Linked DNA regions of Homo sapiens: all the other regions are reported to be linked to region 2. Evidence: microRNA targets listed by miRTarBase, many of them from high-throughput screens and not tested one by one. Region 2 holds a microRNA gene; each other region holds the end of a gene's coding sequence. Distances are from middle to middle.

What was found. Region 2 holds the annotated microRNA hsa-miR-4684-5p (CUCUCUACUGACUUGCAACAUA, at 2,149-2,170, shown strand). A microRNA usually pairs through its seed, bases 2 to 8, with sites in the 3' UTR of a target mRNA and lowers its output. Matches are read on the target gene's strand: a 7mer-m8 pairs with bases 2 to 8, a 7mer-A1 pairs with bases 2 to 7 and ends in A, and an 8mer does both.
Region 1: the mRNA of ZMAT2 is a reported target of hsa-miR-4684-5p. The part of its 3' UTR that is shown has no 7-base or 8-base seed match.
Region 3: miRTarBase lists RNF207 as a target of hsa-miR-4684-5p. Seed matches in the 3' UTR shown: 7mer-m8 at 2,242-2,248 and 7mer-m8 at 1,938-1,944.

What each region holds. Positions count from the first base shown.
Region 1 is chr5:140,705,169-140,708,514 of GRCh38, forward strand. ZMAT2 (zinc finger matrin-type 2) reads left to right here. Exons shown (of 6, transcript NM_144723.3): 6 at 445-1,518. The coding sequence ends at 588. Among named protein-coding and RNA genes, the nearest start is that of ZMAT2, 6.4 kb to the left of the region's middle.
Region 2 is chr1:22,717,382-22,720,381 of GRCh38, forward strand. MIR4684 (microRNA 4684) reads left to right here and starts at 2,136; the gene lies at 2,136-2,217. The region is part of intron 1 of EPHB2 (EPH receptor B2); the gene reads left to right. RefSeq lists an enhancer at 1-472.
Region 3 is chr1:6,218,646-6,221,922 of GRCh38, reverse strand. It overlaps RNF207 (ring finger protein 207), which reads right to left. Exons shown (of 18, transcript NM_207396.3): 18 at 624-2,687. The coding sequence ends at 2,516. It overlaps ICMT (isoprenylcysteine carboxyl methyltransferase), which reads left to right. Exons shown (of 5, transcript NM_012405.4): 5 at 1-730. Among named protein-coding and RNA genes, the nearest start is that of RNF207, 14 kb to the right of the region's middle. RefSeq lists silencers at 2,272-2,457, 2,888-3,088.

The DNA.
Region 1 (3,346 bases), not on the chromosome of region 2:
GACTGTCTCATCTGTATTCTTTGATTTAATTTTTTTAAAAGACTAAACTTTTTTTAGAGGAGTTTAGGTTTGCAACAAAATTGAGAGGGAGTTATAAAGATTTCCCATATACCCACTGTCCCCCACAACATGCATAGCCTCCCCCATAATTTTTTTTTTTTTTTAACTGCAAGAGGAATTAACTAAATGTACCTAGTCCTAAAGAGACCCATGAAATCAGGCTGACTGGGTCAAAATTCTGTTTCTTCCACTTACTGGCTGTGAATCTTGGGCAAGTTATATAACCTCTTTGTGCCTCAATATCCCCATATTAGAGATCTTAATATACATGAAGTACTCAGAGCAATTTCTGGCATGTACTGCATGCCCCAGAATGTTAGTTGTTGTTACAAACAACATTTGGCTGAGGAGTCTAAACTGATTCTGAGTGATTTTTCCCTCCAGGAGGAAAAGGCCAAAGCGTACAAGAAAGAGAAACAGAAGGAGAAGAAAAGGAGGGCTGAGGAGGACTTGACATTTGAGGAGGACGATGAGATGGCAGCTGTGATGGGCTTCTCTGGCTTTGGTTCCACCAAGAAGAGTTACTGAGGCTTTCTGTGCTTGGCCTGACTTTGGCCTATGCTGGACCTAACTTTGCGTGTGTGTGTGTGTAGTAGGGGGTCATTTCTTTTTGGGTAATGGGAAAGTTCTTAAGAGTGTCAATGGGGAGGGATAGAGGGTGGGGGCTCATGGTTTCCCTCTACTTTGGGAGAGGGCACAGATTGCAGAGGTAATGCTGTGGCATATTGCTTCTGCCTCAGTGTATCACTGGAGTCACAGGACCCTGCCCACCTGAGTTCCCAATAAAGAAAAACCTCCCCTTCTGAGGCTGCTTTCCCAAAACTCCCCCTGCATCTTTATCTCTTCATCTATCCCACCTCTTGTCTGAACATCCCACCTTTATCCTGTGTTCTGCCTTTGTTTTAATTTTAACTCATGTTCATCCTGCAACAGAAGCATTCTCTAGGTCCCAGTTTCCAGTTGATTGCATATCCTTGATCAGCCCTTTTTCCCATCCTGCCCTATGGTTCTCTAGCCACCTGTGCATGCATGTGTATTTCTGCCTGGTTCTATGGTGTGTGGATGTGTGTGCATGAATCTGTCATATAGAGGGGGTCCGAGCTGGAATCCTAGAGCATTGCTGCCCTGGGGCCTGATGTTCTTGGCTTCCTCAGAGCATGTAACAGGAAATTAAATGGGATGAGTGTTTGGTGTGGTTTGTGTCTGATGAGTTTTTTAACATTCAGGTGTAGATTGTTTCAGCTTCTCATGTTTCATTTTCCTGAAGATTTATGTTTTTGTCTACCTTGTGAGCAGGCTTTTGGAAGAACCTGTTTGATGCAAAAAAGAAAATGAAAAACAAAACAAAAAATCCCCAAAACCTTATTATGGGAGCCCGTCGGTCTTAGAAGCTGTTTGACATGTATAATAAATGGCATTGACTGGGCCTGTTTTACATTTGGTGAGAACATTCCATAATCTTCCCTGTGAATATTTGTTTTTCCTTCTCATGCTGAGGATTTCCATATAGAGTATTTTATTCTTCCATTTTAAATCTTATTTTTGCCTAGGTTTTTTTTTAGCATGAGTTATGTTTTCGTCTGATAAGGGATCTATGTCCAGAGAAGTCTGAACCAAAACGATTCCTATCATTTCAGACTCCTTTGATCTTTTGTTTTTGGAACAGCAGAGCTCAGGATTGAACATAATGTTTTTTCTTTTTTTTTTTTCTTTTTTTTGAGACAGTCTTGCTCTATCGCCCAGTCTGGAGTGCAGTGGCGTAATCTTGGCTCACTGCAACCTCCGCCTCCTGGCTTCAAGTGGCTAATATTGTATTTTTAGTAGAGATGGGGTTTCACCATGTTGGCTAGGCTGGTCTCAAACCCCTGACCTCAGGTGATCCACCTGCCTCGGCCTCCCAAAGTGCTGGGATTACAGGCGTGAGCCACTGCACCTGGCCCTTAGTGTTTTTCTTACTGTCTGCTAGACACAGAATTACTTAATTTTGGCACTGTTGAGATTTTGGGCCAGATTATCATTTGTTGTAGAAACCAATGCTGGCATTGTAGGATGTTTATTATTTTGATTTTGATTTAGGATTAACTTCATCCCTGGACTCTACCTGCTAGATGCCAGTAGCACCCTCTTCCACAATTGTGACAACTAAAAATGTCTATGCCTCTGAGAAAGGCAAAATCCCTCCCTACCCACATTGAAGACCACTAAGAAGAAGCTAGCTGTCTTCCCTACCTTGGTCTGATTTGAGAATTAGATGGCACAGACTGGCAAACTCAAAACAGAAACTCACAAAACTTTGATATCCACTGGATCAAGTACTATGCCAAGTCAAGGGGATGCAGAAGAAAAAAATAGCCATACATACACGAAGAACTACAGTCACATTAACTTCAAGCAGATGAAGCCTGTAACTTGCTGGTTCTATACCCTGAAAAAATGGACCTGTAAATGAATCTGTTTGGGTTAACAAGGCTGCCACCATATAGCTGGTTTTCATTCTCTGCCCCATCAAGCTCCTCAACTTTCTGTATTATCTGAACCACAAAGCACCATACACCTCCCTTTGGACTTTTGTACAAAATTCCCTTACTGTAAGACATGCCCTTTGTCTAATTTCTGATGCTGAATCTTGCCACTGGGAACACTGAATGTATCTTCACCTATGGGCTGAAGGCCTGGCTCAGTTTTAGATACAGTAAGTACTGGGCAACTGGGGGCAGATTGGTGCGTGCTTTCCTTGGCAGGATTATGTGCACTTCAGGTCCCTTGGGTGACAGTCTTCTTGTTGACTAGGTATTTTGTTACCCCTTTCAAGGCAGGCTGGAGGTTTGTGAGTTCCTTCCATGGTTCAGTTTTTTTTTTTTTTTTTTTTTTTTTTTGAGAGTGTCACTGTCACTCAGGTTAGAGTACGGTGGCACGATCTCAGCTCACTGCAACCTCCACCTCCCAGGTTCAAGTGATTCTCCTGCCTCAGCGTCCTGAATAGCTGGGATTACAGGTGGCCGCCACTATCCCCAGCTAATTTTTTTGTATTTTTAGAAGAGATGGCGTTTCACCGTGTTGGCCAGCTGGTCTTGAACTCCTGACCTCAAGTGATAGCCCTCCTCGGCCTCCCCAAGTGCTAGGATTACAGGCATGAGCCACCACCCCTGGCTTCATTCTTCAGGAAACCATCTAGTTCAATTTAGCTTCAAAGAATGTCTTTCCCTTTTTGGTACAGTGGGATCTTACCTCTGGTTGCATCTAAAAAGCAATTCTGAATTTAAGAATCTTTAAACTCTTGGGACTG
Region 2 (3,000 bases):
GACACCTGTCTCCCCAGTACCCCCGTGTCATCTGGGGGCTTGCCTAGGACACCCTCACTAGGTGAGCTTCCTGGAGCCATCTGCCCCCCTGCTGCAGCCCCTGTGGGGTGGGAGTGTCCTCAGAAGAGGGGACCTTGCCTGCTGTGTGGCCTTGACCAAGTGATCCACTCTCTGAGCCTCAGCTTCCTCATCTGGAAACTGGAGAATACCGCGCATGTGTCAGAGGCTCATGGCGAGGATTCAGTGAGATGCTGTGTACCATGACTGGCAGAACTGCCTGGCACTCAGCTGTGTCCATTCTTTATTAGTTTCCGTAACCATTAAATGTCAGCAGCACCCTCGTGCCCCTGGCCAGAATGACTTGTCCCTTTCTCTGAAGTCCTACAGAGGCTTTGCTTAGCCCTGATCACTTTCTCTCCTGTTCTATAAACAGCAGAGCCTGGGGGTTACAGGAAATGTGTGTGGAGTCAGACTGCTCCGTACTGTGTGTCCTCTGGCTTGTGTTTTCACCTCTCTGAGCCTTGGTTTCCTCATCTTTCAAATGGGGGTAATCATTGTTCCTAGCTCTTGAGATGGTTGTGAGCAATGGATGTGTTAATCTGAGGAAGACTAAGCTGAGTGTGTGCCTCAGGTGTGCTAAGCTTGCAATAAATGTGAACGGTTGCTATCCTTGCTTTCTACCAATGGGAAGCTCAATTCACAGTAGGGGAACAGGGGGCCAGTGTACCAGGTTTTTCATCTCCAGCTCTCCCCCACCCACTGTGTTCTGAGCCTTACAGGGCAAGGGTCTGACTGGCTTGCCAAGTAGCTGAGAGGCCCCTCCAGCCTGCCCACTCAGGGTACCATCCAGGTTTTCTCAAAGGCCCCCTCCCCACTCCAATTCAGCCTCCCTAATCTGGGAAAGGGGTAGACTCCTTCATGGCTGTACCCTCCTTCTTTGCCCAGTGCCTGCCAGGCACCACCTTCCCTGCCATGATCATGGGAATGGCTGTCAATTCTTTTTTTTTTTTTTTTTTTTTTTGAGACAGAGTATTGCTCTTGTTGCCCAGGCTGGACTGCAGTGGTGCAATCTCGGCTCACTGCAACCTCTGCCTCCCGGGTTCAAGAGATTTTCCTGCCTCAGCCTCCCTGAGTAGCTGGGATTACAGATGCCTGCCACCATGCCCGGCTAATTTTTTGTATATTTTAGTAGAGATGGGGTTTCACTATGTTGGTCAGGCTGGTCTCGAACTCTGACCTCAGGCGATCCACCTGCCTCGGCCTCCCAAAGTGCTGGGATTACAGGTGTGAGCCACCGCGCCCAGCAGCTGTCAATTCTTGTGCCAGACATTGTACTAACAGCATTATGTGTGTTGCCTTGTGCAGTTGCCCCAAGAGCCCCACAGGTCGTTGTATTATTGTGCCCATTTTACAGATGAGAAAACCAAAGCTCTGAGAGGAGTGACTGGCCCAAGGACACCTAGGGAGTGGTGAGGCAGCGATTGAAACCCAAGTCTGGTGACTCCAGAGCTCATGCTCTTCTCCACTTCTAGAATGTGCCTCCCTGCTCAGAGGAAAGGCTTGGCTCTGATGAGGGTCTCTAAGGCAGCTGTCCAGCTTCCAGCTCCATCAACATCCTGAGATAATGCAATGGGAGGGTTCTACAACTCACAAACCTGCCATAAAAATGCAATCTCTGTGATAATGGTCAGAATAATGTTGTTCTAACTTAGACAAATCGGGTGTTAACTCATTATGTTGTAAGGGGCGCCTCCACAGAGAATGGAGACTACGAAACAGTCACAGGGCCATTTGCAGCTTGTACTTCCAAATACAATAGCTCATCAGGCCTTCACAGCCATCCTGAAAGGGGCAGGAGCCACGGGGCCCACTTTAGAGATGAGGAAACTGAGGTCTGGGAGATAATATGACTCGCCCAAAGCCAGCAGCGGGACCAAGCTTGAAGCCCAGGGCCAATCTTAATAGCTCATCTATCCAGTTCAAATTCTTAGCCAACATTTGAAAATCAAGAGATTTTACAGAAAAGTCCTGTTTCTGGCGTTTCTGAAAAGTCAGACAATCTGGTTTCACAGGGCCCACATTCCCACATGGCCACAGTTGGCTGGAGTGACTGCCTCTTAAGACAGAATGTGTGAGCACCAGGGGTACCTCTCTACTGACTTGCAACATACATTTGTCTTGGTGTGTTGCAAGTCGGTGGAGACGTACCCTTGGTGCTCAACCCCTGTAAGGGCTTGAGTTTGCCTCCTGGATCTGCCCCTGTTACCCTGTGTGACCTGGAGTCAATTGCATGGCTTCCCGAGCCTCAGCTCTCTCTTCTATAAAATGACAGGGGTGAGACTCAGTGATTTTGGAGGCCTCTTCCAGCTCCAGGATTCAGTGCCCATTGCCAGGGTTCAGGGGTTCAGGCAAGGGAAGGGAGAGCTACAAAAAGTACAGGACTCCACTCCTGAAAAGCATATCACTTATCTTTAGCAAGCCACCACAAAACCTACTGGCTTAAAACAATAATGATTTCTTAGTTGTCCTGATTCAGTGGATTGGCTGGGCTCAGCTGGGTGCTTATTCTGTTCCCCGGGTTGTCAGTTGGGATCACTCAGGAGGCTGCACTCAGCTAGGTTGGGCTGGAAATTCCATCGTGGCTTCACATACATCTTTGAGGCCCTCATAGAGAAGGCTGGAAGGCTGGTCCCCCTACGCTCCTCGCTATCTCCCATCCTTTGCTAGTCTAGACTGCGCCTCTATCCATGGCAATTAGCTCCCAAGATGGTGAAATGGAAACTGCAAGGCTTCTTAAGGGCTGGGCTCTAATGTCACAAAGTGTCACCCCTGCAGCCTTCTGTGGTGGTCAAAGCCAGTCACAACACCAGCTCAGATTCATCCCAGGCTTCCTCATCAGGTTCAAGGAAAAGGAAAATATACTGGGCTTGATTTTTTTGTTTTATCCTTGAAGAGAAGTCCCATTTCTTGCTCAGCTGTTCAGCATGGAAAATTTAATGG
Region 3 (3,277 bases), 16 Mb from region 2:
GTTTTAAAGTGGAGATTCTGAAGTGGAAAATAGGTACTGTCAGAACAAAGCTACCTGGAAACAGCATAGAGTGAAGCCTTTCGTGAGGGCTTGCAGGCCGCTGCTGAGTGGCAGTTTACAGAAGAGGTCGCGGGGTGAGCCTCTTAGCAGGACAGAAAACAAGGCAGCAGCGCACCTGCCACCCCTTCACGAGCTGCTCCTTGAGCCTAAAAAGTAGGCTTTATTCATCCCTTCTGTTCATTTACCAACCTGGGGGATTGATACGACCGGGGAAAATGTTCCTAAACCAGGAAGCTGCGTTAGCCGATCAGGCTTTGTAAGATCTCGCCAACAGCTAGCTGCTTAGGAGTACCCCCACGATACGCACAGCACACCACTGTCCCTTCACTGCACTTTCTTCCTGCCTTAGGTAGTTGGGCTTGCCCACCCTAGTTTGCTTTTGTAGTGGTTTGGCAAGGTTAGAAGGCCTCGGCCTCTCTGTCATGCTGGGAAGTGCCTACTCTCTGGGCCACTGCTGCAGAGGCCGTGGCACTTGTCATGGGTTTGGAAGACCCAGCCATCTGCAGCAGAGGCAGCCTATCCCATTGCAAGGAGAGGAACTGAACGGAGTAATTATTCTACTCTTCTTTTTACATAAATGTTTATTTAAATATTCTAAATTGGATTTTCTTTCACAGATACTGATTATTCTTTCCAGTTCTTAAATAAAACTGCACTTGATTTCACTCAACCACAGTGTGATTGTCTGGGATGTGAAACTCTGAGGTCACTCTTGGGTAAGAAGCGTCTTAAGCCTTTAGCCTCAAACGACGTGTGTTTGGCCTCCTCAATTTCTTTCTGAATTCCTACCTCTAACCAGTTGTAATGATAATTCCTTTTGCCCTGCAGGCCACCACATAGGTTTGTAAGGCCTTGGAACAGGAGCCTCAGTGCCCCTGAAGTAGCAGGTGCAGGGACAGTGGACGTCAATGTGAGTGATGTGTTATGTGTTGAATGTGCTGCCATGTTAGCACGTAGACCCATTTGCTGTTAATCACTGAATCAAGCTGAATATTTGCTTAAATGTGACTATCTGGGCATCATTTTGCCACAAAAACTTGTAAAATTTTACGTCACGTGGGTTACTTTTTAAAAAGCATTTATTAAGCTCCTCTAAATGAAAAGGATACTGTGGAGAAATGGAAAACTGCTGGGAAAAAACTACTAGAAAAAAGGTTGCTGCCACCCAGTGCCTTGCTATCAACGGAAGTCGGACTCAGGAGGGCTGCAGGAGTTTGGGAAAGCAGCGAAGTTGTAACTGAGACCATCTGCCACATAAGCTGGCCAGGTGCTAACCCCTGGCTTTAGGAGCTCTGCCCTTGCTGGAAAGGGAGAGAAGCTGGAGCAAACGTTCCTCATCCTTCCATGAGTCACTGCTCAGATTACTGTGTGGAACTTCCCAGTAGCACCAGGTTAACAGTGGGACTGTTATTCCGGAGGAACTGGATTCCTTTGCAATAGGGCAGGTGCCACTCAGTGGTGGAGTCTTGTTACCTAAAACCGGCACACCCTGACATACCACACTCTGCCCAGCACAGGGCCTGGCACACCGACGCTCGGTGCGTAGGTGTGGAACTAGCGAGGGATTTCTTGCTGGATTGTCACTCCCTGATGTTTTCCATGTGGACTGGGAGTCATCCCAAGCTACTGTGACAAGGACGAAGACTTCATGCCATGCAAACACGGGGAAAATCAAAACTGCCCAAGCCAAAGGATCTGAAATTATGGCCTGTCAGAGCTTCTGGGTTTTACTCTTGACAAATGATTACCTTTTAAAGAAATAACCGGCCGGGCACAGTGGCTTACCCCTGTAATCCCAGCATTTTGGGAGGCCGAGGTGGGCGGATCACCTGAGGTTGGGAGTTCGAGGCCAGCCTGACCAACATGGAGAAACCCCCTCTCTACTTAAAATACAAAAAATTAGCCGGGTGTGATGGTACATGCCTGTAATCCCAGCTACTCTGGGGGCTGAGGTAGGAGAATCGCTTGAACCTGGGAGGCGGAGGTTGCGGTGAGCCAGAGATTGCGCCATTGCACTCCAGCCTGGGCAACAAAGAGTGAAATTCTGTCTTAAAAACAACAACAACATTGGCCAGGCGCGGTGACTCACCCCTGTAATCTCAGCACTTTGGGAGGCTGAGGCAGGTGGATCACCTGAGGTCTGGCGTTTGAGACCAGCCTGGCCAACATGGTGAAACCCCATCTCTACTAAAAATACAAAAAATTAGCGGGGCGTGGTGTCAGGCGCCTGTAATCCCAGCTACTCGGGAGGCTGAGGCAGGAGAATCGCTTGAACCCAGGAGGCAGAGGTTGCAGTGAGCCGAGATTGCACCATTACACTCCAGCCTGGGCAACAGAGCGAAACTCCATCTCAAAAATAAAAAATAAAAAAAACCATCATGGGAACAACCTTCTGTCCAGTGTCCCAGTCTTGTGCCTGCTCTAAGAGCCTGACCCTGGGGACCGGTCCCATTTGCTAAGTCGGGTGTTCCCTCCATGTGGGGACATCGCCCCCATTTTTCTGTTTGGATCTGTGATGATCCATATTTTTCAGTAGAGGCTCTTCTGAGAGGCCGTTCGGAGCCCAGCTGTTTCCTTTAGGCTCTGATGTCTTCTCTCTCTTTTCCGGGACACTTCCTGGATTATTCCTAAAGGGACAGCCTCATGTAAGCCCAGCCCGCTCCCCCATTTCACCATATCCCTGCACTAAAATCCACTTGGGCCAAAGCACTCAGAATGGAACGTCTTCCTGGAAGGCCTCAGTGAGTGAGAACCAGGAAGGCTCTGTCTCCAAAAGGACCTTGTCTACTTCTGAGTAGGAGCCCATCCCCAGGGGATGGCTGTGAGTTGCTGAACCATCAGCCTGTGTCAGCGGTTTCTGGTGACACTGCATTTTGAATTTGGAAGCATCTGAGCTAATAAATGGCGGCTGTGCAGGGGAGGCTGGGGCCAGACTCTGCTCTGTCACCAGCCGCGCTGTGACTCTGGCCACTTCAGCAACCCTCTGCACACCCCTAGGCTCTTCTGGTTCTCATTCTACAGTGCTGTCCTCTGCCCTGTGACTATGTTTTCCTGAAAGCAAAATACACAAAGATCAGCCTGTGACTGTGTCGTAGGTGTTAATGCACAGCCGTCTTCCTCTGGCAGGTACTGGGGCGCATGCGCTGGCTCTGGGGAACAGTCCTCGGTCACTTTCTCATTTCAGTGACCCGAGTCCCCTAGCATAAGCACGTGCAGC